Linked DNA regions of Homo sapiens: regions 1, 2, 3 and 4 are each linked to region 5. Evidence: fine-mapped expression QTL. A gene starts in region 5. Each other region holds a variant in brackets. All regions are shown on one strand. Distances are from middle to middle. Region 1 overlaps C12orf75 (chromosome 12 open reading frame 75). Region 2 overlaps C12orf75 (chromosome 12 open reading frame 75). Region 3 has its middle 44 kb from the start of C12orf75-AS1. Region 4 holds the start of LOC105369957 (a long non-coding RNA gene). Region 5 holds the start of C12orf75 (chromosome 12 open reading frame 75).

The links. PIP is the estimated chance that this variant, and not a neighbour inherited with it, causes the effect.
Region 1: its variant is fine-mapped to the expression of C12orf75 in whole blood (INTERVAL, PIP 0.98).
Region 2: its variant is fine-mapped to the expression of C12orf75 in whole blood (INTERVAL, PIP above 0.99).
Region 3: its variant is fine-mapped to the expression of C12orf75 in pancreas (GTEx, PIP above 0.99).
Region 4: its variant is fine-mapped to the expression of C12orf75 in whole blood (INTERVAL, PIP above 0.99).

What each region holds. Positions count from the first base shown.
Region 1 is chr12:105,361,860-105,366,964 of GRCh38, reverse strand. It overlaps C12orf75 (chromosome 12 open reading frame 75), which reads right to left. Exons shown (of 6, transcript NM_001145199.2): 3 at 1,123-1,158; 4 at 269-348. Among named protein-coding and RNA genes, the nearest start is that of C12orf75, 34 kb to the right of the region's middle. The variant C/T (reference allele first, on the strand shown) is at 2,503.
Region 2 is chr12:105,354,073-105,359,177 of GRCh38, reverse strand. The region is part of intron 2 of C12orf75 (chromosome 12 open reading frame 75); the gene reads right to left. Among named protein-coding and RNA genes, the nearest start is that of C12orf75, 26 kb to the right of the region's middle. RefSeq lists a silencer at 1,473-1,542. The variant A/G (reference allele first, on the strand shown) is at 2,265.
Region 3 is chr12:105,280,016-105,285,120 of GRCh38, reverse strand. No RefSeq gene overlaps it. Among named protein-coding and RNA genes, the nearest start is that of C12orf75-AS1, 44 kb to the left of the region's middle. The variant C/T (reference allele first, on the strand shown) is at 3,147.
Region 4 is chr12:105,371,232-105,376,333 of GRCh38, reverse strand. It overlaps C12orf75 (chromosome 12 open reading frame 75), which reads right to left. Exons shown (of 6, transcript NM_001145199.2): 6 at 4,816-5,102. LOC105369957 (a long non-coding RNA gene) reads right to left here and starts at 4,220. Exons shown (of 3, transcript XR_945302.3): 1 at 3,867-4,220. The variant G/C (reference allele first, on the strand shown) is at 2,361.
Region 5 is chr12:105,327,948-105,333,044 of GRCh38, reverse strand. It overlaps C12orf75 (chromosome 12 open reading frame 75), which reads right to left and starts at 2,354. Exons shown (of 6, transcript NM_001145199.2): 1 at 2,108-2,354. The coding sequence starts at 2,153. RefSeq lists an enhancer at 729-1,272 and silencers at 1,929-2,028, 2,059-2,718.

The DNA.
Region 1 (5,105 bases), 34 kb before region 5:
TTTCACACTGATCATTGCTAAAATTAACAAGAAATTAAAAATATGGAGCATAACCACAAATAAAAGCTAAATTATGCTCTGGAATTCTTCTTACCATGTGGGTGGCTATTTCAACCAATGACTGCAATGAACAGACAGTACTTATACATGGTTCACTGCAACCAATACATAGGTTGAGTCGAGTAAGCTGAAATATAAATTTCATGCTTTTTCATAAAACATAAAAATAAATAATTAGGGAAAATCAACAGCACATGATTTCACTTACTTTTCCGAACCGTCTTTGTTTGACTGGACACCATATTGACAGCTTCAGATGGTAGGCCAACATATACTCCTCCATAGTTTCTTGATAAAAAGAAATCAAACCAATTTAAATGGTACTATCTATTTACAGGAAGCAACAGAAGCACGGAGTACTCCAAACAATTATATAATTATTAAAATAACTCATGATTTTTCAAAAGTAGAATCTAGAATATTATGGCCCTTGGGAATATAATTGGTTTCCTAGGTTAAAAAGAAGCTATTTTTTTTAAAAAAAAGAAAGATGTATTGCGTTAGTAGAATTTTTAGATATTTTACTTGTAATGAGAAAGAAGAAAAGACTTTGGGATGTTACAATTTATTAGAGTATTAAATATCATACAGTGACATGTTACAGTTAACATTTATCAATAATTCAGAGTGGTCAACATGGTATGATATTAGGCATTATGGACACACAAAGATATCTTACTAATAGAGAGATACAAAATGAGGGCAGAGACAGCAAGAGAGAAATGAGGGTGGAGTGCAGTTAATCAGAGAAGTAGGAGGACAGGGAAGGCTGAGAGAATGAAGGGAAGTCATCCAGTTAGGGAGAAGAGCACACCCAAAGGTCATAGGATGAAAATTAGCACACGCCACATGCATAGGACAAAAACCAAGTTTGCTTGGAAGGAGCAAAGATGATGAATCCTGGGCAAGTTCTTTTTCAGACCATATGCCCCTACCTGTATTCTCTGTGCCAACAGTTTTCCTGGCAGAATCTGTGTTATTGGGAATATGCTACAGTGTGTTAAATCCATGAGGTATGGCCAAAACCATTCAAACTAAAGCCAGCTGCAATACCAAACATACCTCCTCTTGTCATCTTCTGTTACGGATTCTTCTGTTCTAAAAGGTCAGAAACATTTGCTATGAGACACTTGGTTACATAGTCGGGGACTTCATTTTTGGTTATGAGAAAAAGGGACTACTGAGTTGAAGTCAATTTTATTTCAAATGTTTCCATCAGACTTAAGTAGAGGAGCAAAACTATCCATCAAGTGTTTCTGTGACAATATTCTGCCTTCACCTCAATCATTCATACGTTAAAACTTGGTAATTTTCTACAAACCAAAATGTGTGAATCCAGCAAATGCCAAAATGCACAACTGCCAAATGAAATGGAAAACTGAGGGCAGCTGAAATTGGAAAGAAGCCTGAGTTATCGTCTTGTGTGTACCACCCACTCCCTGTGTGACAGACAGGCTGTGGGCGAGCTGCCAGCCTGTGTCTCATTTGTAAAATAAGCTGGTTGACCAGATGACCCCTCAGGTCTCTTCCAGTCCTAATACATGGTTTTAGATCTCTTATGACACTTCAGTGGCACAACTATAGGTACTGAAAGACTTCTTCAGTGCAAAAAGAGTTAATGCCTATTTGATTTTTTTTTATCTAAAAACATGAGCCATTTCATACATGATCTACTGCAAAGAGAGGGAGAAATATTTAAAAGGATACATTTAGAGGGGATCACTACTTTAAAATGCACAGCTTCTCTCCTTGCATTAAGAGGAATCCAAGCTGGACATGGTGGCTCATGCCTGTAATACCAGCACTTTGGGAGGCCGAGGCGGGCGGATCACCTGAGGTCAGGAGTTCGAGACCAGCTTGGCCAACATGCTGAAACCCCATCTCTACTAAAAATACAAAAATTAGCCAGGCATGGTGACGCCTGTAGTCCCAGCTACTCAAGAGGCTGAGGCACAGGAATCCTTGAACCCGGGAGGTGGAGGTTGCAGTGAGCAGAGATCACGCCATTACACTCCAGCTTGGGCAACAGAGGGATACTTGGTCTCAAAAAAAAAAAAAAAAAAAAAAGGAGTCCATATTCTACCAGAATTCCTTGGCGTATTTCTAAGAGAATCAGGACACTTTCCTTGAAGCACTAGTTGGCATACATAAGTTGCTTTTCTGAAAGAAAAAAAAAATAATTCAACAAGATTCCAATGTATCTGGCTGAATTCAACTTGTAACACTAAGGGGCTTCAGTTGAGCAAAAAGCAGACTGCAAACATCTAAATGTCATTGACTCTTCTGATTCAGAGATTGTCTAACTATGATTTTACCCACTTAAAAGCTGTGAATATTTCAAATGTGACTGTATATGTGCATGAGATTTTTGCTTTATTGCAACAGCCAGTAAGTCCAAGTCTATAAAGAAGGAAAGTGTAGATTTAATAATTATCTGGTGAA[C/T]GCTGGCCATGAACAGCTAATACTGGAAGAGAGTGCAAAATCCATCTTGAGACCTAATTCATCCAAACTGAGCATATAACCTAAATTCACTAGATGGTTATCAGCTTCATTTACCTCTTAACGCTGGATTGTTTTTTTAGTTCAAGTGTCAAAGTCATACTAATGGTGTTATGCTTATTGATGTGGTATAAGAGAGAGTTGTTCACTACTTTTAATTAAAATGGATTTATAATCCTTTAGCATAGATAATGGAGAAATGATGAGGACAAACTCGTTCAAGGTAAGTTCTGATAAGAACTGTTTACTTTGGTCCTGAGTGATTAACTTTCTCAAGAAATCACTTGAATCTGTATATAACTGGTAGCTTATGACACACATTTCCGGCCATGACTATTCTTTTCACATCCATTTACATATCCGTTTATTTTAATTCTTTCCCCTTTTGCTTAACTGTGCTTAAGGATATATTCAAGGTTTTAAAATATATTTTCACTTTCCCAAATGTAAGAAAATAGTCATTTACTTTCTCCTGTTAAATTACTCAATATCTTAAAACTCAATCTGTGTTCTCCATTATAAAATTAATCAACAACCTTACATGTATAACTGGCAGGAAATGATAATGTAGTTGCCATATTTATTGGATAATAAATTAAGCTTCAGATATAATGCCAAATCTTAAAAAAAATACTACCTATAAAGACTTATAAGATGTCCACTCTTTTTTTTTTTTTTAATTAAGACAGAGTCTTGCTCTGTCACCAGCCTGGAGTGCAGTGGCACAATCTCGGCTCCCTGCAACCTCTGACTCCCTGGTTCAAGTGATTCTCCTGCCTCAGCCTCCCGAGTAGCTGGGATTCCAGGCCCGTGCCACCATGCTCAGCTAATTTTTGTATTTTTAGTAGAGACGAGGTTTCAACATGTTGGCCAGGATGGTCTTGATCTCCTGACCTCGTGATCCTCCCACCTCGGCCTCCCAAAGTGCTGGGATTACAGGCTGAGCCACCCCGCCCGGCCAGATATCCACTCTTTTAAACCTTCCAGTAAGTTGTAAAGCCTGTCTTTGCATACTCACTCCCATGTATAAGACTGTCACTTCATCCATTCCTTCCACAAACAGTTATTCTACAACACTAGGACTAGAGACCAGGACTCCGTGGGTATAATGGTGTCATTCATGAGTCTCTCCTGTGTGTCAGGCACAGTGCAGGACACTGCACGTGCATCCATGCTATTCCTCACAACAGCTCTGAGGGCCTAGGCCTGAGGAACCAGGTGCAGAAAGCCATGTAATTCATAAACATACAAGACTAACAAGCATGACCAACATCCATACCCCATCCATCTGGCACCAAAGCCATGCTCCATTCTCATTCACCACTCTGCTTCTCAGGTAGAAAGATGTAAAAGTCAAAAACACTTCCTGTGAAAGACCAACGTAGTGGCTTCTCCTAAAGTGGGCGATTCACCTCCATACTGCTTTTGCAAAAGCTTTGACCATCATCCCATCTCTCAACCTGATTGTGTAACTATACTAGGCACTTTGCTAATCCTATTATATTAGTTCATTTAATCCTTATACAATCTTGCAAGACCAGTACTACTCACATTTTAAAAATGAAAAAACTGAGTAGCATGACCGAACTTACGAAGCTAAATCATAGAGCCAGAATTCAAACCCAGATTTGTGTGATCCTAATTCCTGCTTCATACACTGTAGGCCCATGCTAATTTGCATTAGAGAAACATGCACCTTCCCGCAGCTGGAGCTCTCCAATTTTTTTTTTTTTTTTTTTGAGACGGAGTCTTGCTCTGTCACCCAGGCTGGAGTGCAGTGGCGCGATCTCAGCTCACTGCAAGCTCCGCCTCCCAGGTTCACGCCATTCTCCTGCCTCAGCCTCCTGAGTAGCTGGGACTACAGGCACCCGCCACCACACCCGGCTAATTTTTTGTATTTTTAGTAGACAGGAGGTTTCACCATGTTAGCCAGGATGGTCTCAATCTCCTGACCTCATGATCCACCCGCCTCAGCCTCCCAAAGGAGCTCTCCAAATTTTTTTTTTTTTTTTTTTTTTTTTGAGACGGAGTCTCGCTCTGTCGCCCAGGCTGGAGTGCAGTGGCGGGATCTCGGCTCACTGCAAGCTCCGCCTCCCGGGTTCACGCCATTCTCCTGCCTCAGCCTCCCAAGTAGCTGGGACTACAGGCGCCCGCCACACGCCCGGCTAATTTTTTGTATTTTTAGTAGAGACGGGGTTTCACCGTTTTAGCCAGGATGGTCTCGATCTCCTGACCTCGTGATCCGCCCGCCTCGGCCTCCCAAAGTGCTGGGATTACAGGCGTGAGCCACCGCGCCCGGCCAGGAGCTCTCCAATTTTTATCATCCCACTCAAGAAAAGTCAGAAACAAGATTGTAGAAGAGTCCTAGTCTGTTTCATCAGCATGAGAAACAACCTCTAACTGCTGCCAGGGACCATCAATCTTCGCAGATCTTGTCAAATTGCCACATAAGTCATTTTTATGCAGGTACAAAGGTTGTTCTGATGAGCAGTTACATTAGAATCTATTCATCTGGACAACCAGGTCCAGACTAAGGTTAAATCAGA
Region 2 (5,105 bases), 26 kb before region 5:
AGCATTGAAGCTTATCACGACTTCTTCAATTTCACAACCATGGAGTCAAACGTTGGTGCCGACGCAGGGGAAGAGAAACTAGCCCAAATTACCAAGGGATCAAGGGAAATCTGGAAATAAGTACGTGGCACATCAAGACAAATCCTGCTCTTGCTAGGGGAGCTATGCTAGACATTAAGTCCATTAGAGAAGTGAAAGGGGAAGGAAGACCCAAGGGAAGGGACTGGAACCAAGTGCTGGGGTTTGGTCGAAACATCATCCGCTTTACAGCTGTGCCCAGAGCCAATCTTAGAAGGAAGACTGACTTCTGGAGTCCAAAGAGTGCTGGAGGAAGCCAGTACTAAAGGATTTACATTAATTTACTGAGCAGTGATTCCATTTTCTAGTTGCACACGAGCCACTACTCTAAAGAATAAACTTGTGTAATAAGCTTGTTTTTCCAGGGTAAGCATGACTGAAAACCTATCGGTAAATTGCTTTCTCTGGTATCAAGACAATGTTTTGTTTCTCCTCATCTATACCATTTGAAAAATTTGTGGAAAGTAATGCAACATTTGAAAAAATGTAAGACTGAAATATTTTTTAATCATAACCTCAAATACCATCTTATCAGGAAAACCCTGTATTTATTTATTATTATTGTTTTGGTTTTTTTCTGAGACAGGGTCTTGCTCCATAGCCTAGGCTGGAGAGCAGTGGCACAATCATAGCTCACTGTAGCCTCAACCTCTCAGGCTCAAGCGATGCTCCCATCTCGGCCTCCCTAGCAGCTGGCACCACAGGCGCACACCCCGCACCTGGCTAACATATATGTTTTTTGGTTTTGTAGAGATGGAGTCTCACTATGTTGCCTAGACTGGTCTCGAACTCCTCAGCTCAAGTGATCCTCCCACCTTAGCCTCCTGAGTGGCTGGGACTACAAACACGTGCCACCATGCCCAGCTATAAAACCTTTTAAACCACAGGAACGTTCCCTAAGAACCATAGAACATGTATTCACCAATTTGGACCAGGTTTAAAAAATACACTGAGCCCAGCGCAGTGACTCACATCTGTAATCTCAGCAATTCAGGCAGCCAAGGCAGACAGATATCTTGAGCCCAGGAGTTCAAGATCAGCTGGGGCAACAAAGGGAGACCCTGTTTCTTCAAAAAATACAAAATAAAATAGCCAAGCATGCTGGCTTGCACCTGTAGTCCCAGCTACTCAGGAGGCTGAAATGGGAAGACTGCCTGAGCCTGGGAGGTCGAGGTTACAGTGAGTCATGATCGCACCACTGCACTCCAGCCTGGGCAACAGAGCAAGACCCTGTGTCTGTCTGTCTGTCTGTCTGTCTCTCTCTCTCTCCTCTCTCTCTCTCTCTCTCTCTCACACACACACACACACACACACACACACAGAAAATACATTGGGCATTCAACTAAAATCAGGTCTCCTTTTGTTAGCAAAAAAATGTAGCTTCTTTTATCAAAGAACAGGTGATCAAGGAGAAAGAATGAGTCGAGGTTCAAGCCACCCGTTGAGTATCATAATCATCTCCTAGCCTAAGGTCACACACTTACAGGGCTCTGAGTCAGACTTTCAGTCATAGCATTAATAAAACTGTTTGCAGAAACAAGTGTTATTCAAGGTGACCCCCGTAACTCATATTCTCCCCACTTTCAACGTCTTTTGGGATTGTTGAAAAGATAAATCCTCAGTTGATGGTTTAAACATGACTCACTCTTGTAGAGTAAGATACTGTTTAGTGATATGTACCTTATCAAAGTTGGCTTGACACTCGGCATGCAAGAAAAAGAAAGAAGAAAAGAAAAAAAAGCAACTGACCAAAGGCAACCACTGCAACTAAGATTACAGATGGATGGCTTCGGGTTTCCTCTGTCTCAGAGTTTCTATTAATTCCACTTCTAGCTCACTTCCTGTGAACTTACTAAAACCAGCCAGGTGCTCTTCTTACCCTTCTCAGGGTGAATAGCAGTGCTGATCCAGATTCTCTAGGTAGTTATGCATCCTTCTGTTTTATACTAGGGTCACAGACTTTTTCTGAATGAACTGGAGACATTGAATGTCTCTCTAATCATAAATAAGCTCTGTCTTCTTGTAGGTCGGGGTTCTGGAAGGTGGGCTGCCTCCAAAACGACCATGTCTCTGTGGCTGCTCTTTGGGGTGGGTGGGCTTTCGCCTACCTGGCCTTTTTTTAAATTAATGTATTTTTTGCATGCCTATTTAAAACCAAATATCTGCATGGAACACCTCAACCTTAC[A/G]ATCATTTTAAATTACTATGATTTATCTTACCAATAACTATCACTTTCATTAAGTGAAACCTTATTCAAAGTTAATACATAAAATATGAATCTTTTTCTTCCTCAGTAATATATGGTAGTCAAAATCTTTCATCATTACATTTACTTAGTTTCTGGGTTGTATAAAATAGCTATCCCAAGTGACCTAAAGATTTTAACAGTGAAATAATGGAACCATGTCATGATCAAGGACAAATACAGATGACAAATATGAGATAGCAGCCAGCCATTTGAAACAGCAGCTCCCAAGTCATCCTTGCTACAACTTACCTGAAAATTCAGAAAGTTCTCACTTCCCTTAGGCTTCTAGAACTAACAAAGTTATGTGGCAAAGAAATGATTTATTTTTTACTTATTCATCAAGAAAAATGTTCTAAATATACAGCTATTCTTATTAGAGATGATCTAAAAAGCAAAAAAAAAAAAAAAAAAAAAGCCTGTAGTCTTTTCTTTTTCCCTATTTGCAGTGTCACTAAAGAGGCTAAACTTACTTTGACTCGTAAACAGTAAAAATTGAATATGGAAACCCTGGAGACCATGGCTCTCCTGATCTGTTTCTAGTTACCATTCATGATAACCTTCTGGAATAGGTTTATTAATTGATTGTGTTTACTTCCATCTACACTACAATTCTCCAGATAAAATATAATTATTTAATTTTCTTTATAACATGTTTTCATGATGGTTCCTGCTCCTTGGGGTGGTTTCAATCCATTCTAGCAAACCCTTAATTACACAATGAATTATGTTTTACCATTGGCTGTTTTGGCCTATGTTTAATATCATTCATTTCTTTCCAATTTCAAAACTTCTTTGGACTGTTTTCTTTTGATCTCTCTCCCTGGATGAGCCCATTGGCCAATATTAGTCCCTTTCTTTCTTCCAGAGTGTATGACTGGAGAACATGAGTAACATTCACTTCAAAGGAATGCTTTCAACTTCTCTTTATCCAGAAGCAAGAGATCAAGAGCCAGACTGCAAATTCCCTGTCCTCTCTAGCTCTCCTCCCCCCAGTTATTCTCTTACTAAGGGGCACACAGTGTTAGGAATTATTTCAGAATTGGTTGTAAAAATATCATTTGCTATAAGGCAAGGGTGCACTCTTCATCTCCTTACCTTAAGAAATTTGGCTTTTCCTTGCTGGCACCACTTTTCTCAAAACCTCAAGAATATGCATCTTGTTCTCACCTACCCTAGCTTCTCCTAACAGGAGACAGAGCCAGCATGCTCCTCATCTCCCCACAGAGCTCTTACAGGTGGGGCCATTTCATTTTCACTCAGAACCTCTCCTCTCTGGAGTCTAAACCCTGCCATAACTGTCCCCAGAGCACCAAAGATTTTGACCCTGACCCAAAGTTTTTCTTTCTAAGCACCATTATCTTGGTCAATTTAAAACTCCATGAAAATGGCCACGTGCAGTGGCACACACCTGTAATCCTAGCACTTTGGGAGGCCAAGGCGGGCGGATCACAAGGTCAGGAGTTCGAGACCAGCCTGGCCAATATGGCAAAATCCCAACTCTACTAAAAACACAAAAATCAGCTGGGCGTGGTGACATGCGCTTGTAATCCCAGCTACTTGGGAGGCTGAGGCAGGAGAATCACTTGAACCCAGGAGGCAGAGGTTGCAGTGAGCTGAGATAGTGCCACTGCACTCCAGCCTGGGCAAGAGAGCAAAACTCTGAAAAAAAAAAAGAAAAAGAAAAAGAAAAAGAAATTCGTGAAAACCACCCATCCAACCTCTCACCTCATATTTTGCTGACTTCCTCTATCCCAACAACTTCTGTGCTGCTCCGCTAACATACTCCGATGGCTGCTCCATGGAGTATAGTTCCTGGAACTATTTTACCACATTTTAGAGTAGAAAATCCCACTCCCTAGGGAGGAAAAAAAAATCCTCCTTTCGATAGTCCCATCATTCCCAAGAAGGCTGCTTTCTTATTGCAACATCAGCTCCAGTTCATCCATCCCTCCCCGTCCTCCCTATCCATCAGCCCCTCGTGTTTCCCTTCCCTCTCTCCCTAGCACATGTCTTGCAGTCAAGTATTTCTGCAGCACTTGCTGGTCACCACCTATTCCTCTCCATCCCTGGATGAATCCGTCCATCTGCTCTCTCTCTTCCTGCTCCTATTTCACAGGGTCCGACCTAAGGAAAATCTCATCATGGCTACCAATGGGAATATATGATTTCTAACCACAGCAAGGCCCTCAATATGCTGGGTCTTCTGCCATCAAGTATTCATGTCAGAGGCCCTGCCAAATTTTTTCAACAACATTTTAAACTAACTAATAATTCTAGCTGTCATTCACCGGGGGCAACAAGCATAATGCCAAGTATTTTCCTAGGATATTAAATATACTGTATTTGTAATCTGTCCCTCCAGCAGCTACTTCAGCTCTCTGTGCTCCCCACCTCCTCACTTGTAAAATGAAACATCATTATTCTGTCCATCAGATTATCATGGGTATGGAAGGAGATAACGTACAGAAAATGCTGGAAATCAGTGTATGGTGCACAGTCCTCAGTAAAGATTAGCTACTACTGTAAGAATGATGATGATGAAGATGATCACCCTGCACAGTTATTATATTATCCCAATTTCACAGATAATTATACTAAGGACACAATGTAACACAGCTAGCAAATGGTGAAGGGGATTTTAAACACAAGTCCCTCTGCTTCCAAAATGCAGGCTTTTTCAATGCTACTTCAACCCCATCCTCTTCACCCTCAGAAGACAGCGTTACCTTCTACTACATGGATGAGAAAAGAGCCCATCAGATACCCTAAGGTCTGTATCTA
Region 3 (5,105 bases), 48 kb after region 5:
ATTTAGAGTAAGTAATTCTGGAATAATTCCCAGTACTGAGTCTATAAATTGAGGCTAATTCATTTGAACAACTGAAAGCAGTGTATGCTGATTGCTGTTTTTTAAAGAAAATTAAAAGAAAATTGCTTGTGTTAGAGAGTATTTCTTAATAATTAAGAAGTGATTTCTCAATCTCAGAAGTAGTACAGCAGAGGGATTTAAGAGCTCATGTTTGCCTTTTGCTGTTTTGCATTTTAAAAACGCACCCAAATTAAAACCCATGTGTAAATTGTTGGGCTTTTACATGTTTTTTGTGAAATTAATCTTTGTTAATTAATGACCATGTGCCTTACCCCAGAAAGAAGGAAGGATTCCATCATTTCACAAAAATTCCAAAGAGCCCTGGGTAGATGTGGAGCTGAAGGCACCCATCCCTCTCAACTCCCCAGCCTCCCAGCATCCTGAACCAACAACCCAACAACCCAGCTTCTGTGACTGGCACCTCCAATCCACTCAGTTGCACAGATCAAAACTGTGGGAGAGATTTTTGGTCTCTCTCTCTGCTTCACCCACCACATCCAATCAACCACAAAGTTCTTCTCAGCGAAGTTCCTATATAGACATGTCCATATTTGATATCCTCACTTTCCTACTTCCCATTCTGTATTCAATTTAGTCCAGTTGGGTTATTATCTCTACCACTTCTCCATTATCAAGGTCATTATCAAGATGTAGATACTCTACATCTAGCCAAAGCCTAGTTCCTTTTTCATTACCTTTTAGTTAACCTCTCAGCAACAGTTGACCATGCTGTCACTCTTGAAAGTCTTTTCTGAGCCTTTGTAAGATCACTCACCTGGACTTTCTCTTAACTCAGTGGCCACTCTTTCTCAGCCTTTTTATTTTGTTCTTCCTTTCTGTAAGGCTTCTATCTTTTAGGTAGCTCAAATTTCTATCCTTGGCCCTGTCTCTTCTCTACATTCTCTCCCTTGACTTCAAGTACCATCTCTATATTTATGATACTCAATTCCCAACCCCCCAATTCCAGAATCATATATCAACTTGGAAGTCCAGTAGGCATCCGAATTTTGTAGAACCAAAACAAAGCTATCTACTTTTCTACTCCTCTCTCTCCCCTACCAGTCAGCCCCTTACCTGCTTCCTCACTAAACCTTCCTCTTTTTGGTAAATTGCACTGTCATATTCTCAATTGCTCAGGTACAAAACTTAGAGCTTATTCTGATTTTTCCCTCACCCTAAAATCTTGCATCGAGTCCAGCCATGTATGTTGCTGACTCAACCTCCAAAATAGAACCACAACCCTACATCTCATCACCCAAGTTGAAACCATGATGTCTGGCCTCATCTTTGCAGCAATCTCCCAACGAGTTCCCCTGCCTCCACTCTTACCCTTACACAGTCCATCCTCCACACAGCAGCCAGAGGAGAGATTAGACTCCTTAACTTCTCCTTCTGGGTACTGCCAATGGTTTAGCATTAACCTTATAGTGGCATCTCATTGTGGTTTTGATTTGCATTTTCCTAAGGATTAGTGATGAATCTCTCTGTGCTTATTGGCTATCTGTGCATCTTCCTTGGAGAAATGTCTATTCAAGTCCTCCAATTAAGTAAATTAATTACAGTACATTAAAGTAATTAAGGTCCATTTTTTAATTGAGTTGTTTGTGTTGTTGAGATGTAGGAGCTCTTTATATATTCTGGATTTTAACCCCTCACCAGATACATGATTTGCTATTATTTTCTCCCACTCGATGGGTTGCCTTTTTCACTCTGTGATAATATCGTTTGCTGTTGTACAAGTTTTCTATTTTGATGAAAAACTATTTCTTCTTTTGCTACCTGTGCTTTTGATGTAATATGCAAAAAATCATTATCCAATCCATGTCATGAGGTTTTTTCCCTATGTTTTCTCCTAGGAATTTATTAGTTTGGGGTCCTACATTTAGGTCTTTCATTCATTTTGAGTTGATTTTTGTGTATGATCTTAGATAAGGATTCAACTTCCTTCTTTTGCATGTGGATGTCTGGTTTTCCCAGCACAATTTTTTGAAATCTGCTCTTTCCCCCATTGAATTATCTTAGCACCCTTGTCAAAAATTATTTGGCCATGGCCGGTCATGGTGGCTCACGCCTGTAATCCCAGCACTTTGGGAGGCCGAGGCGGGCGGATCACGAGGTCAGGAGATCGAAACCATCCTGGCTAACACGGTGAAACCCCGTCTCTACTAAAAATACAAAAAAATTAGCTGGGCATGGTGGTAGGTGCCGGTAGTCCCAGCTACTCAGGAGGCTGAGGCAGGAGAATGGCATTAACCCGGGAGGCGGAGCTTGCAGTGAGCCGAGATCGCGCCACTGGACTCCAGCCTGGGCCACAGAGTGAGACTACGTCTCAAAAAAAAAAAAAAAATTATTTGGCCATACAAGCAAGAAATTATTTCTGGACTTCCTATTCTATTTCACTGTCTTTATGTCAGTAATCTACTATTGATTATTGTTGCCTTGTAGTAAGTTTTAAAATCAGGAAGTGGGAGCCCTCCATATTTGTTCTTTTTCAAGATTGTTTTGTGTATTTGGCGTCCGTTGACATTCCATATGAATTTTAGGATGGGCTTTTCTATTTCTGCCAAAAGTATCATTGAAATTTTATAGAAGCTGCATTGAATCTATAGATTGCTTTAGATGGTACTGCCATCTTAACAATAATCACCCATGAACATGGATGACTTTCTATTTAGCCAAGCCTTCTTTAGCTTTTTTCAGCAATGTTTGATACTTATGTACAAGCCTTTCTCCTCATTAGTTAAGTTTATTCTTAAGTATTGTATTCTTTTTTATGCTATTAAAAAGGAAATTGTTTTCTTAATTTCACCGTTGGTATAAAGAAACAGAATTTTTTTTGTGCATTGACTTTGTATCTTGCAACTATGCTGAATTCATTCATTAGTTCAACACTTTGGATTTCTTAAATGAAATCTTTACGGTTTTCTAGATATAAGATTATGTCCTCTGTGAACAAGGGTAATTTTACTTCCTTTCTGATTGGTACTGTTTTTATCCTCACTTTATAAATTATAAACTGAGTATATCAGATAAGAATGCATTCAGTTGTACATAACAAAATTTACTGGGGCTTGACAAATGAATTG[C/T]TTATTTTTCTCACTGAATAAGGAGTCCAAAGTCCAGAGCTGATGCAGAAACTGCACTATACAATTAAACTACTGGACTCTAAAACAAACAGCAACAACAAACAACTACCAGGCTCCTTCTGTTTTCCCTTCCTGCCTTCTTAGCATGTTGACTTTCCTTTCCAAGCCACAAGGTGGTTGCTGCCCCTCCAGGATCATGTCTGCATCTAGGCAGGAAGAACAAGGAAGGATTTTCTCCTCCTAAGGATCTGCCTTATATTTGGTATGGATTATGTTCCCGACTTACCTCAGCTGACTCGCCTTTCCATCTCTCTGGTCATACCTGGGTTGCAAGCCCACCTTTAGACTAATCGCTGACCAAAAGGAATAAGATTTCTATGAGTATTTTTGACCAATCATGATTCATATCCTGGGGCTGGGATAGGGTATAGGAATACCCGAGGTCAAGGGACATCACACTAATATCAGAACAGATCTGTGTTCTGTTAGCACCAAAGAGGGCTTTTGGCAGGTGATATCAGTGGAGCTAAGGCACAGAGAGGTCAAGTGATAGACCCAAAATTCAAATTCAGACGGTTTAAAGCCTGCTCTCCTAACCAGATCAACAGAGGAACAGAAGGTTCTGTGCCCAATAAGCCAAACTGAGTTAATGATTGAGTAGCACTTGTTATCCTAGGACACTAATGAGAGTGGGGATACCAAAAGGCAGAGATATCAGAATCCCCTGGAGGCCTTCCTCTAAACTATGGCCTCTCCCCAGAAAGTTTGCCGTGATCCCCAAGTAAAAGTGTGGCCCACAGCCAACCCTCATTGGAATCAATGTAGTCTGAGTCACTGTTAACAATGGCTTTGTTGAATTTGGGAGGAGGGAGGGGACTAAGAACCACTCTGATAAGAAATATGCAAACTACAAGAATTCAGTTTTATGTCCTTTAACTGGTTTTGGGCGATTTGCTTTTTTCATTTTGTATTCTGATACTATTTCTTTAAAAAAAAATTCTGAGTCTTTGTTAAATTAAGTGGAAAAGGAATTTGTCTCTACTGAGTCTCGATACTTATGAAGATGTTTTAAAGAAGCAAATGTCTAAATATTAACCACTTTAAGTCCTTTTCTGGAGCAAAACAAATAACTAGTGTGTGTGTGTGTGTGTGTGTGTGTGTGTGTGTAATTGTTTCTGCATTTAGGATTGCTGAATTGAGATTTAGTTCATGCAGTTCAATTCAACAAACATTTACTAAGTGCCCCATACAAGATTCTATACTGGTTACAAAAATGAGTAGTTTTGCAAAAAAAGTTCAGGGAAATCTGTAAGTCCTTAAATTTGTTTGCAAAATTCCAGGATATTTGCTTAAATGATACATATATCAGTAAAGAGTTCTTCTTAACCTTCATCAGATTCTTAAGTGCTTCTGTGACACACAAAAGGTTGACCCACTGATCAGAATGGTCAGTCCCCAGAGGTGGGATGTGGCCACAGTAGTCCTTAGGCAGCAACAAGATGCATTACAAGGTGGGTGGCATTACTTTGGTTCCAGGAGAAACTTCCCCAGGGATGAAGGAAAATTCTAGCCACTGGACATAGACAAGAACATAGTTCAACCCCCGAGAGAAAAGGCTAGTGCGAGTTCAGCCACACAAGTCATGACTTACCTCTGCCAGTCAGGCCAGACACACAGGGTGGGTGATTGGAAGGCTAGAGTTGGATAGTTCCAGTGGTGCCCAGGGAGTCACTCAGGCTTAATAAATGCTCATTTGGGGGAACGGCAGAAATTCTGTTCTCTACTTGCTGTGCAAATGGGCGCATTTTATGTGCTATCAGGCTTGGTGAGCACTGACTTAGGAGCTGAGCCCATGGGTTGGAAATCTTAGGTAGAGCACACCCTTGGATCGCTCTACCTATTTCCAACCCATGGATTTTTAGTGGTGGTTGGCTTGTAGTATGGCGGAGATGCACAGAA
Region 4 (5,102 bases), 43 kb before region 5:
GAAGCAAATTATATAATTGAGTACTACATTATCTAAGTGTCAGAGACTTCACTAATGGAGAAAGAAATTTGTCTTTTTTTTTTTTTTTTTTCTTTTTTTGAGCTAGAGTCTCACTCTGTCACCCAGGCTGGAGTGCAATGGCACAGTCTCGGCTCACTGCAACCCCGGGCCTCCCGGGTTCAAGTGATTCTCCTGCCTCAGCCTCCCGAGTAGCTGGGACTACAGGCACTTGCCACCACACCTGGCTAATTTTTTTTATTTTTAGTAGAGACAGGGTTTTGCCATGTTAGCCAGGCTGGTCTCGAACTCCTGACCTCGTGATCTGCCCGCCTTGGTCTCCCAAAGTGCTGGGATTATAGGCGTGAGCCACCACACCCAGCCAGAAATTTGTCTTAATGGAATAGTTTTGTGAAAAAAGACATAAGAAGCCGAGAACGGTGATGTACACCTGTGATCCCAGCTACCTGGGAAGCCAAGGTGGGTGGATTGCTTGAGGTCAGGAGTTCGAGACCAGCCTGGCCAACATGGTGAAACCCCGTCTCTCTACTAAAAATAAAAATAAAAAAATTAGCTGGGCATGGTGGTGCACGCCTGTAATCCTAGCTACCTGGGAGGCTGAGGTGGGAGGACTGCTTGAACCCAGGAGGTGGAGGTTGCAGTGAGCCGAGATCACACCACTGCACTCCAGCCTGGGCAACAGAATGAGACTCCACCTCAAAAAAAAAAAAAAAAAAAAAAGACATGGGAGAAATACGTGAAGCAACAAGATAACCCCAACATTGTCACAAACCTAAACCAAGCAGCTGATGATTATACCTGCTGCTGGGATAGGCATGGCCCTGCCCTAATGGAATGTTCCTGACACACTCATTGCCTGGCTACATCTACCCCGACATGATGCACCTGAAAATTCCAAGTAGTTTATATAATATTATAGATTAAATGGGAAAGCTACACCTTCATAAGACATGGAAAGTACTGCAAGTACTTATCATGCCTACTAGAGAGACAGACCCACAAACCAGGCACTGGAGGGGAAACTAAGACCAGTCATGACGGCCCTTAAGCACCTAAGCTCCATGACAGCTTCATTCCCCAGTGGCTTCTCACAGGCTTCAGAAGTTCAAAGGTGACCCTCCAGGCTCCACGCAAGCTCACCTTGCCTGCCTCTCCCATCCCATTACCATCACCTTCCACCCAGCCAGGCTCAACTCCTAGCATTTCCCAGGTTATGCCAAGAGCGTTCCAGGTGTCTCTGCACCTGTGGTTCTCAGCCTGAAGCTGCTTTCTTCCTTGATCTATGCTGGCAAACTCACACCTTCCCTATGGCTCTGCACCAGGGACTGCCCTCTGGGAAGTCTTCCTTCGTCCACCATCCTGACTTAGGCGTCCCTGCTCTGTGGTCCCGAAGCAATCTCTACCAGCCCCGGCCACTGCTCTAGATGTTCCTTACAGGCTACCCAGAGTATCCACCACTCATGTGAAGAGCCTTGAGTGCATGGATCGGGTCTTTCAGCTGTACCCCAGTAACCATTGCCCATCAGGGGCACAGCAAGAACTCAACTGGTGATGGTTGAGAAACAACGGAAAATCAGAACTGGGTACTGGGACAAAATCTACGAAAAGCACCTCATCCTTCTGTACTGCTTGAATTGATCAGGTGCATCAAGTATATGTAAATAAGTAAATGCAAACGATCTTCCTGGGAATGAGTTCCTTACATAACTTTTCCACACCAGAAATTCTTCCCACCCTTGGGCATGGATACAGTACAGATACACTAGCTCCCATTTGCAAAACTAAGCCTGTTTTCTCTTCCTCTTCAAACTCTTTTAACAATTCAAAAAACCAGAAAGGCAACTCCCCACTGTATTAACTTAGTGCCTTCTATCATTTTGCCTCTCTCCCCAGAGCCTAGTCCAGATCACTTTCCAACAGGCCAGCATTCTTCAATAGCACCCCAGAAGTCAGCTGTACTTGTCAAAACCAGAGTTTTCTACATTCCAGAGTTCCAAGCAGGTCTCCAAAACTAAATTATAGCTGTCTTCTTTAACTGAGTCTAGCAATGAGTGCCTTCTAGCTTAGAAGGTTTCTTAAGAAAACCTTTTTTATTCAGACAATCTTATCAATCAGAAAATCTCAGAAACTCATCTCTTCATTGTATTTTTCAATAATAATCTTGCGAAGAAACCATATATTGTTTGAAAAGGCATTAACTCTTAAATATCAGGCATTTTTAAGGCTTTACCCATCTCTTTTTCTTCTGAAATGTTTTAATGTTATTTATTCTTCTCTGAGTTCTTCACTCAAGTTTCTTGCAGTACTTATTAAAAATTATAGTCATTAGCTTTAAGATATAG[G/C]TTAAGTGGGTGGCAAGTAAGAATCACAAGGTTCTAAATTTTAAAAATGTCTAGTTGAAGAAAAATGCCAAGACTTATCACAATATGGAAATTACTATCCAGTTATGATGAAAAGTGATGAAGTTTTAGGAATGTGTTTTAAACAAACTTTTGAATTGGATTTTTATTTTAGAGGCCTGTTTGTTACTAAAAATCAACCAAAGGTGGAGGCAGTGGAGGTGGGGGGCAGGATGGAGCATGTCAGAGCCAACCTGAAAAAGCTCCCAGAAGCCAAAGCTGGAACAATTTGAGCAACAAAATAGCAAGAGTATTGGATTATAACCTAAAAGACAAAATAAATATCCAAAAGCCCATACTGATGAAAATGAATGACTGAATAAGTAAATGGGGGAAAAATGGACAAATGTTCCTTAGAGAAGAATTCCAAATAATACAGGTAGAGGAACGAGGGAAATAGAAAGTCACATTTTTATGCCACATAACAGATGCTGCAGACAACAGCCAAGGATGAACCTGAAAATTAGTGGGCAAAACTCTAAGGAGAAACAGGGTATTTGCAGAGTCTCAAACTATCTTCTCCAAATTACTTATTAATTACCGTGGTGCCTTTAAGAGTCCAAAAATTCCTTGATACTCTTTTCTCCAGGAGGTGAAGCTTGATTCCCCTGTCCTTGAGTGTGGTCTCAACTTAGTGGTTCATTTATCACTTATAAGGAGCAGGGGATGAAAACGGAAAACTAGAGGCCAGGTGCTGTAGCTCACACCTGTAATCCTAGCACTTTGGGAAGCCAAGGCAGGAGGATTGTTTGAGGCCAGGAGTTCAATAATAGCCTGGGCAACAGAGCGAAACCCCACCTCTACAAAAAAAATTTTAATTAGCTGGGTGTGGTGGCATGCACCTCTAGTCCCAGCTACTCAGAAGGCTGAGGCGAGAGGATCACCTAAGTCAAGGAGTTTGAGGCTGCAGTGAGCTGTGATCGTGCCACTGCACTCCAGCCTGGGCAACACAGCAAGCCCATCTCCAAAAAAAAAAATAAATAAATAAATAAAAAACTTGAAACTTTATCAAAGAGAAAGCTGCCAGATATCACCTAGTCAAGTGATGAAGGTCAATATCAGCAGTAATAAGTCATGTTGAGATCATGAGATATAATGATATGCTCTAATGAGGGGGCCACTTTACCTCTGTGGTCCTCTTCCCACCAATCTCTGTTCCAGAGACAGGGTCTTGTTCTGTGGCCCAGGATGGAGTGCAGTGGTGCGATCACAGCTCACTGCAATCTCAAACTCCGGGGCTCACGCAATCCTCCCACCTCAGCCTCCTGAGTAGCTGGGACTATAGGTGTGTGCCACCACACCCAGCTAATATCTCTTCCTAAAAATCTACAACCCCAGTCCAATCATAAGAGAACAGACAAATTCAAATTAAATGCACTACAAAATATGTAATCAGTAGGCTAAAAAAGTGTCAAGGTCATGAAAAACAAGGAAAGACGAAGAAAGTACCAGGAAGGGGAGACTAAGGAGACAAATGGAGAATAAGGAAACAGGATGATCAAGTGCAACAGAATGCAATGGAATCTTGGATTTGATCCTGAAACAAACAAAAAGGACATTAGTAGAAAAACTGATGTAATCTAATTAAAGGCTGTAGTTTATCACATTGTACCTATGTTTAATTTCTTCTGACAAATGTACTGTGGTCATGCAAGATTAACATCAGAAGTAGCTGGGTTAAGCGCATACAGGAACTCTTCATATAATCTTTATGTGCTTCTATGGATCTAAAATTTTTTCAAAATTAAAAGTTTTTTAAAAGTCAATCTGGCCAGGTGCAGTGGCTCACACCTATAATCCCAGCACTTTGGGAGGCCAAGGCAGGTGAATCACCTGAGGTCAGGAGTTCAAGACCAGCCTGGCCAACATGGTGAAACCCCGTGTCTACTAAAATTACAAAAAATTAGTCAGGCGTGGTGGTGCACACCTGTAGTCCCAGCTACCTGGCAGGCTAAGGCAGGAGAATCGCTTGAACCCAGGAGGCAGAGGTTGCAGTGAGCCGAGATCATGCCATTGCACTCCAGCCTGGGAGACAGAGCAAGACTCCATCACCAAAAAAAAAAAAAAAGTCAATCTATCTGTTATTCCTAATAGGACAAACTGCTGATATTCCACCTAAATACCATTATGGACTTATGAACATGAGACAGGAATGTGTGTATCAGGATAATTTCTTAGTAATTCTTAGCTTTGAAATTTTTTATCAATTTGATGTCCCTGTGGTTGTCATACAGACCAAATATATAAGATAATGCCTTTCTTCCTATGAAAAACTTTGGTTTTTCTTAGTAATCTACTTATATATTATTATCTTCATATGTTTATATAATGTATCTATACATCACAATGCCATGTGTGACTTTAAGTGTTCTTTTGAAAAATAATTAAGAAATGTAAGTGAAGAGGGATAAAAATGTTTTAATTGTTGAAATACATTGGTGAATTGAGTAACTTACATTGCAATACTAAGTAGATACACAAGTCATTATCAAATTAATTTCCAGATATCCCACTAACCATCCATCGCAAGTCCTTGAAAAGTTATAGAAATAATATGATGAGATTGTCGTGATGTAGAATGAGCAACCCAAACAGCTATGAAGTATTTGTAGTTGCACATGCCTTTCACGAAAGAAAATAAAAATGTAATCAAAATGTGCATATGGCATGCAAATTTGAGTTTAT
Region 5 (5,097 bases):
TTTTGGCAAACAGCAAGCTGGAGGAGAGAATAGCATGCTCTCACATGCACTGTCCACAAACAAAAGTGAGGCTGCTCCTCAAACTACTCTTTCGGTAGCTTTTTTTTTTTTTTTCAATATGACTTCCCTTTAGGTGATAAGAGAGATGCTCCTAGGGAAAAAGTCAATCAAATATTCATAAAGATAATCATATTTCCCCAAGAAATCATATTTTCCCCCCAAATTTGATTTTTACATTAACATTTTAGAGCTAGCTCATCATACCTTACCATCTTTCTATTTTCTTTTCTTTTCTTTTTTTTTTTTTTTAGATGGAGCGGAGTTCCACTCTTGTTGCCCAGGTTGGAGTGCAATGGTGCGATCTCAGCTCACTGCAACCTCCGCCTCCCAGGTTCAAGCAATTCTCGTGCCTCAGCCTCCCAAATAGCTGGGATTACAAGCAGGCGCCACCACGCCCAGCTAATTTTGTATTTTTAGTAGAGACTGGGTTTCACCATGTTGGTTACACTGGTCTCGAGTTCCTGAGCTCAGATGATCCACCCACCCCAGCCTCCCAAAGTGCTGGGATTACACAGGCATGAGTCACTGCGCCTGGTCCATCATTCTGATTTTCATTTGGCAATGGTACCCCCTCCCCATCCCTAAAACTGACAAGCAGTTCATTAATAAATCAAAATGTACATGCATGAAACTAGCCTCATTTTAAGGGAAATCTGCTACAAATCCTTCCTACAATTTTTTTTAATGTGGATAACTTTTCTTCACCTTTTTTAAGTAGGCTACACATGCAGTGGATTGCATACGGCCACAGTACCTAGTAGACTGAGACACAATTTGAGTGCGGGGTGTGGCCCTGACATTGTTTCATACAAGCAGAGCTTTCTGGCCACAGGCAGGTTTGAAGCCCGTCTGCCCTCATTAGCATAAGGTGCTACACTAACCTTCCCCACTGTTAAATGAATCTAAAAAGTTCGCTCTCCTGTGGCTCTCTGCATTGTCACCAGGACAGGATTTAATTCAAGACTCAAATTGAGTCTTAAACTCCATTTTTTACCGGCGTCTGGGTTAAGGGATGTGACAGGCCCAAGGTTACAAAGTCATTGCCAGGGCCTCCACAGCCGCCTAGGAAATACCGCAGCCTCTGACTGCTGTTTGCATTTGCTGGTTAGGCTAGGATGTGGCATCTGGTTGACTTCAATTGGAGGAGATAGGAGCTCTTTATCCAAAAGGACACTGAAATAGGTCAGCAGTTATTACTCAAAACAGATCCAGGGTACCTTAAATCCCGAGACATAGGCAGGGTGAAATAGAAGGGTGAGTTTTGGCAAAAGTCACTTGACACAAAGCCTGGCTGGCCCGGGGAAGCTAGAAGACCTTGCCTGCCAATCAACATGAAGTGGTATAAAAAGAAGTTTCTATTTGTGTGTGTGTGTGTGTGTGTGTGTGTGTGTGTTTAATGAAAAGTATCTTAACAGACTGTTAATAATAAAGCTCTGTCTCACATATGTAAAACATCCTTACTGCTGCAGCTTCTCAGAGAAATCCTAAGAGCAGCCCAGCCGGTCTTCGGCATCAAGGCAGACACAGATGCGTTTTTGCAGCTCTGCTTCTAGTTCTCCCCAACCCCACTCCCACCCTTCCCCGCTTCCTGCCCCACCACCACTGCCCGAAAAGTCCTGTCTTGCTCTGCTGCACTTTTCCAGGTGCAGCGCCTTGGTTCCGAGGAGATGGGGGAGAGGCCTGGAGGAGCAAGTGTGGGAGGTGGGGGAGCGGCCGGGGACCACGTCCGGGAATCCTCTCCCCCAGGAGAGCCCTGAGACCCGCCAGCTGCAGGTGAGCCCCGGCGGCTGCAGGGGAGCCCGCGACAGTCCTCCCCGCGCTCCCTCGGCAGAGACGCCCCGCAGGCTCGACTGCTCCAGGCGCAACCGCCCCCGCGCGGGGGACTTGCCACGCTTTCGGTCTTTCCAGAAACGGGCGGTCTGCTCCTGTCCCGAAAATGGGGACGGGGAGAGGGGGCTGCGCGCCCCCCACCCAAGATCCCTGCACCCTTCCTTCCCGCCGCCTCTCCCGCCCGCCCCCGCCGGCCCCCGCCTCCCGCCGGACTCACCTTGGCCCGCGCCCGCGCTGGTGGCGGTGGAGTTCCCGCAGCCCATCGCGCAGCCGGCCGGGGAAGCCGCGCTCCGGAGCTCTCGGCCGCGGGTCCTGGGGGCGGAGACCCAGACGAAGGGCGGCGCACCCCGAGCGGGAGGCTGACGGGGCCGCGAGGGGCCAGGAACCGAGTGGGGGCCGCCCCCTCCCACCGCCGGGAGACGCGGCCCGGGGCGCAGCGGGCTGCGGGCTGCCGGGCGGAAACCACCCGGCACCCCTCGCCCCGGCCCCGCCCCGCCCGGGGACCCGCCGGACCCACCCGTCGCCCCAGCAACCTCGGCACTGGCCAATCCCCAGCCTCCTGCGCGCTTCGCGGTCGGCCATTGGTCGTTATTACGAGGGGCGGGAGTTTAAAGTGGGCCCCGGGGCGAGGGAGCGGCAAGGGGCGTGGCCGGCGCAGCGGGGTGGGGGTGCCCACCTGCCCACCCTCAGCATCCTCCTCGCCTTGTCTTTGCTTTTCTTTCCTCACTTCCCCTCCCTGCCCCAGGATGTGGGGAGGAGAGGAAGTAGCAGGGGGCACCCTGCACAGTGGACGCCCAATAAATGCTATTGACTGAATGTTGTGCAGGTCTGAAGCCAAAACCGAAATCCCCAGCTGCTTTAACAGAAGGCCAACGCAGCTCTGTTCCCCATACGCACTGCCTGGCAAAAGTTCTTCCCCAGATTGGTCATCTTGACCTATTCCTCTTTAAAACAAATGTCTGCAACGATTTCAATAACTTGGATTCAGGACCTCCTCTCTGATAAATGAGAGAACTGTGGATGGGCACGGTGCTGTACGTTTCAACATGATAGTTGGGCCAGCGTTACTGCAGTCAGACTGTCTGAGTTAAAGTCTTCGTTCTGCCCCGTGATAGCTGCGTGACCTCAGGAAAGTAACTTAACCCATTGGGTACATCCCTTGTTTCACCTATAAAATGACAGTAACTCAGGTACATATAAAGTACCTAACAAAGTTCCCTATCTTTAGTAAATATCAGCTATTATCATTATTATTATTAACTCTAATAGAAATGAATACAAATTCCTTAAAGGGAAAGACTATCTGATTTTTCATAGCGTCCTCCTGGCTTGTAATACAGACTCACTAAATGTTTTGTGAGGTGACTTCAAGCCAGGAATTAAAGCTCCATTTTAAATTCACTTAATATTTGTAGGGAGCCTAGCCTGTGCCAAGTCCTTTGTTAAGTTCCGGGGATACAAATATGTGGGAGACAGTCTAACCAGGCAGATAGATTAAAATAAATTAATTACAATATAGAAGGAATGTTAACAGAGGAATACAGGTGCCATAGAGTCCCAGAGGATGCTGGGATGCTAGTTAAAAGACTTGCCTAAGGCCAGGCATGGTAGCTTACACCTGTAAACTAGCACTTTGGGAGGCTGACACGGGCGGATCACGAGGTCAGGAGTTCGAGACCAGCCTAACATGGTGAAACCCTGTCTCTACTAAAAATACAAAGATTAATTGGGTGTGGTGGCATACACCTGTAATCCCAGCTACTTAAGAGGCTGAGGCAAGAGAATCACTTGAACCTGAGAGGTGGAGGTTGCAGTGGGCCGAGATAGCACCACTGCACTCAAGCCTGGGTGACAAAGCGAGATTCTGTCTCAAAAAAACAAAACAAAACAAAAAAAAAACAGACTTCCCTGAAACCATACTGTTGTGTTTACATAAAAATAAAAATATGAACCAGAATCAAGGACTTGGCAGGTTTTTGAACATGGCCTTTGAGGCAATGGTGCGTTCTATCATTCAGGATGCAAAATATACAGCATTCTCCATTTGAAAATTAGCTGTGGTAGCCATGTGCTGAGAGGATAATTAATTCTTGGATAAATAAAGGCATTTTTTAGTTGACTTCTAGAAGTACTGCTTCTCTACCAGCCTGTGCTGTCTTGGTTCAGTGTCCATCCTAATACATAGCCAGAACTGGGGAAAAGGGAACTATCAAGTAGCCGAAAGATATTCTCCTGCTTATTTCTGTGCTGACACTAGACTCCAGCCTTAGGACACTTGTAAGAGACAGAAAATGGACCTTGACACCTAGAAACTGGCCTAGAAGCTGTGACACTCAACAGCTGGGCCTTTGCATTCTCCTGTTAAACACAGTTGCATAGAACACCAATATCACACAAGGCCACTCTATAAACTATGAAATGAGACAAAAAACAAGGTGACTCGGTAATCTTGTCTAAGTGCTGACAAAAACAAGGTCATTGTGCAAACCCCCAAAACACCAAACATCTCCCCATCCTGCCTGATAGGATTGTCTGCTGCTGCTTTACCAGTTATGGTTTTAGCCCTGTTCTTGTCTTCCTGCCTAGAGATGAGGTTCATTAAGAATCTCTAATCATAGAATTGTCCCTGCTTCCTGACAATATCCAATGTAGAAAAAAAAAAAAGTTCTGCTTCCTTAAATCCCAACCAAAATCACCTATTATGAACCTAAATCCTGTAGGTTCTTTTCTAACACTCACTTACTGAGATATCTCATGGTTCCTCGTAGTGTGCATTCTGCCCTATAATGTTATAGATTATGTGATCTATCCATTATTTCAACAAGCACTATTGAGTATCACCTTAAGAGCTCCAGCCATGAGGACTTACCTGTTGGGTACAATGTACACTATTTGGGTGATGGTTACACTAAAAGCCCAGACTTCACCACCACCCAATACATCCGTGTAACAAAAATGCACTTGTACCCCCAATCTGTTTTTAAAGTGCCAGCCACTCTTCTAAATGTTTGAGAGACAGCAGTGAACAAGAGAGAGAGGAAAAATCAAGTGGGAGGAGATACATCAAAGCAAATACAATCAGATAATTTTAGATACAAGTGCGATGGGAAAAAATAAGTCACTGGAATAGGAGACTAGGAGTAGAGGGAGAGGTGCTATTCTAGATATAAGGTTGGTGCAAAAGTAATCACAGTTTTTGCTATTACT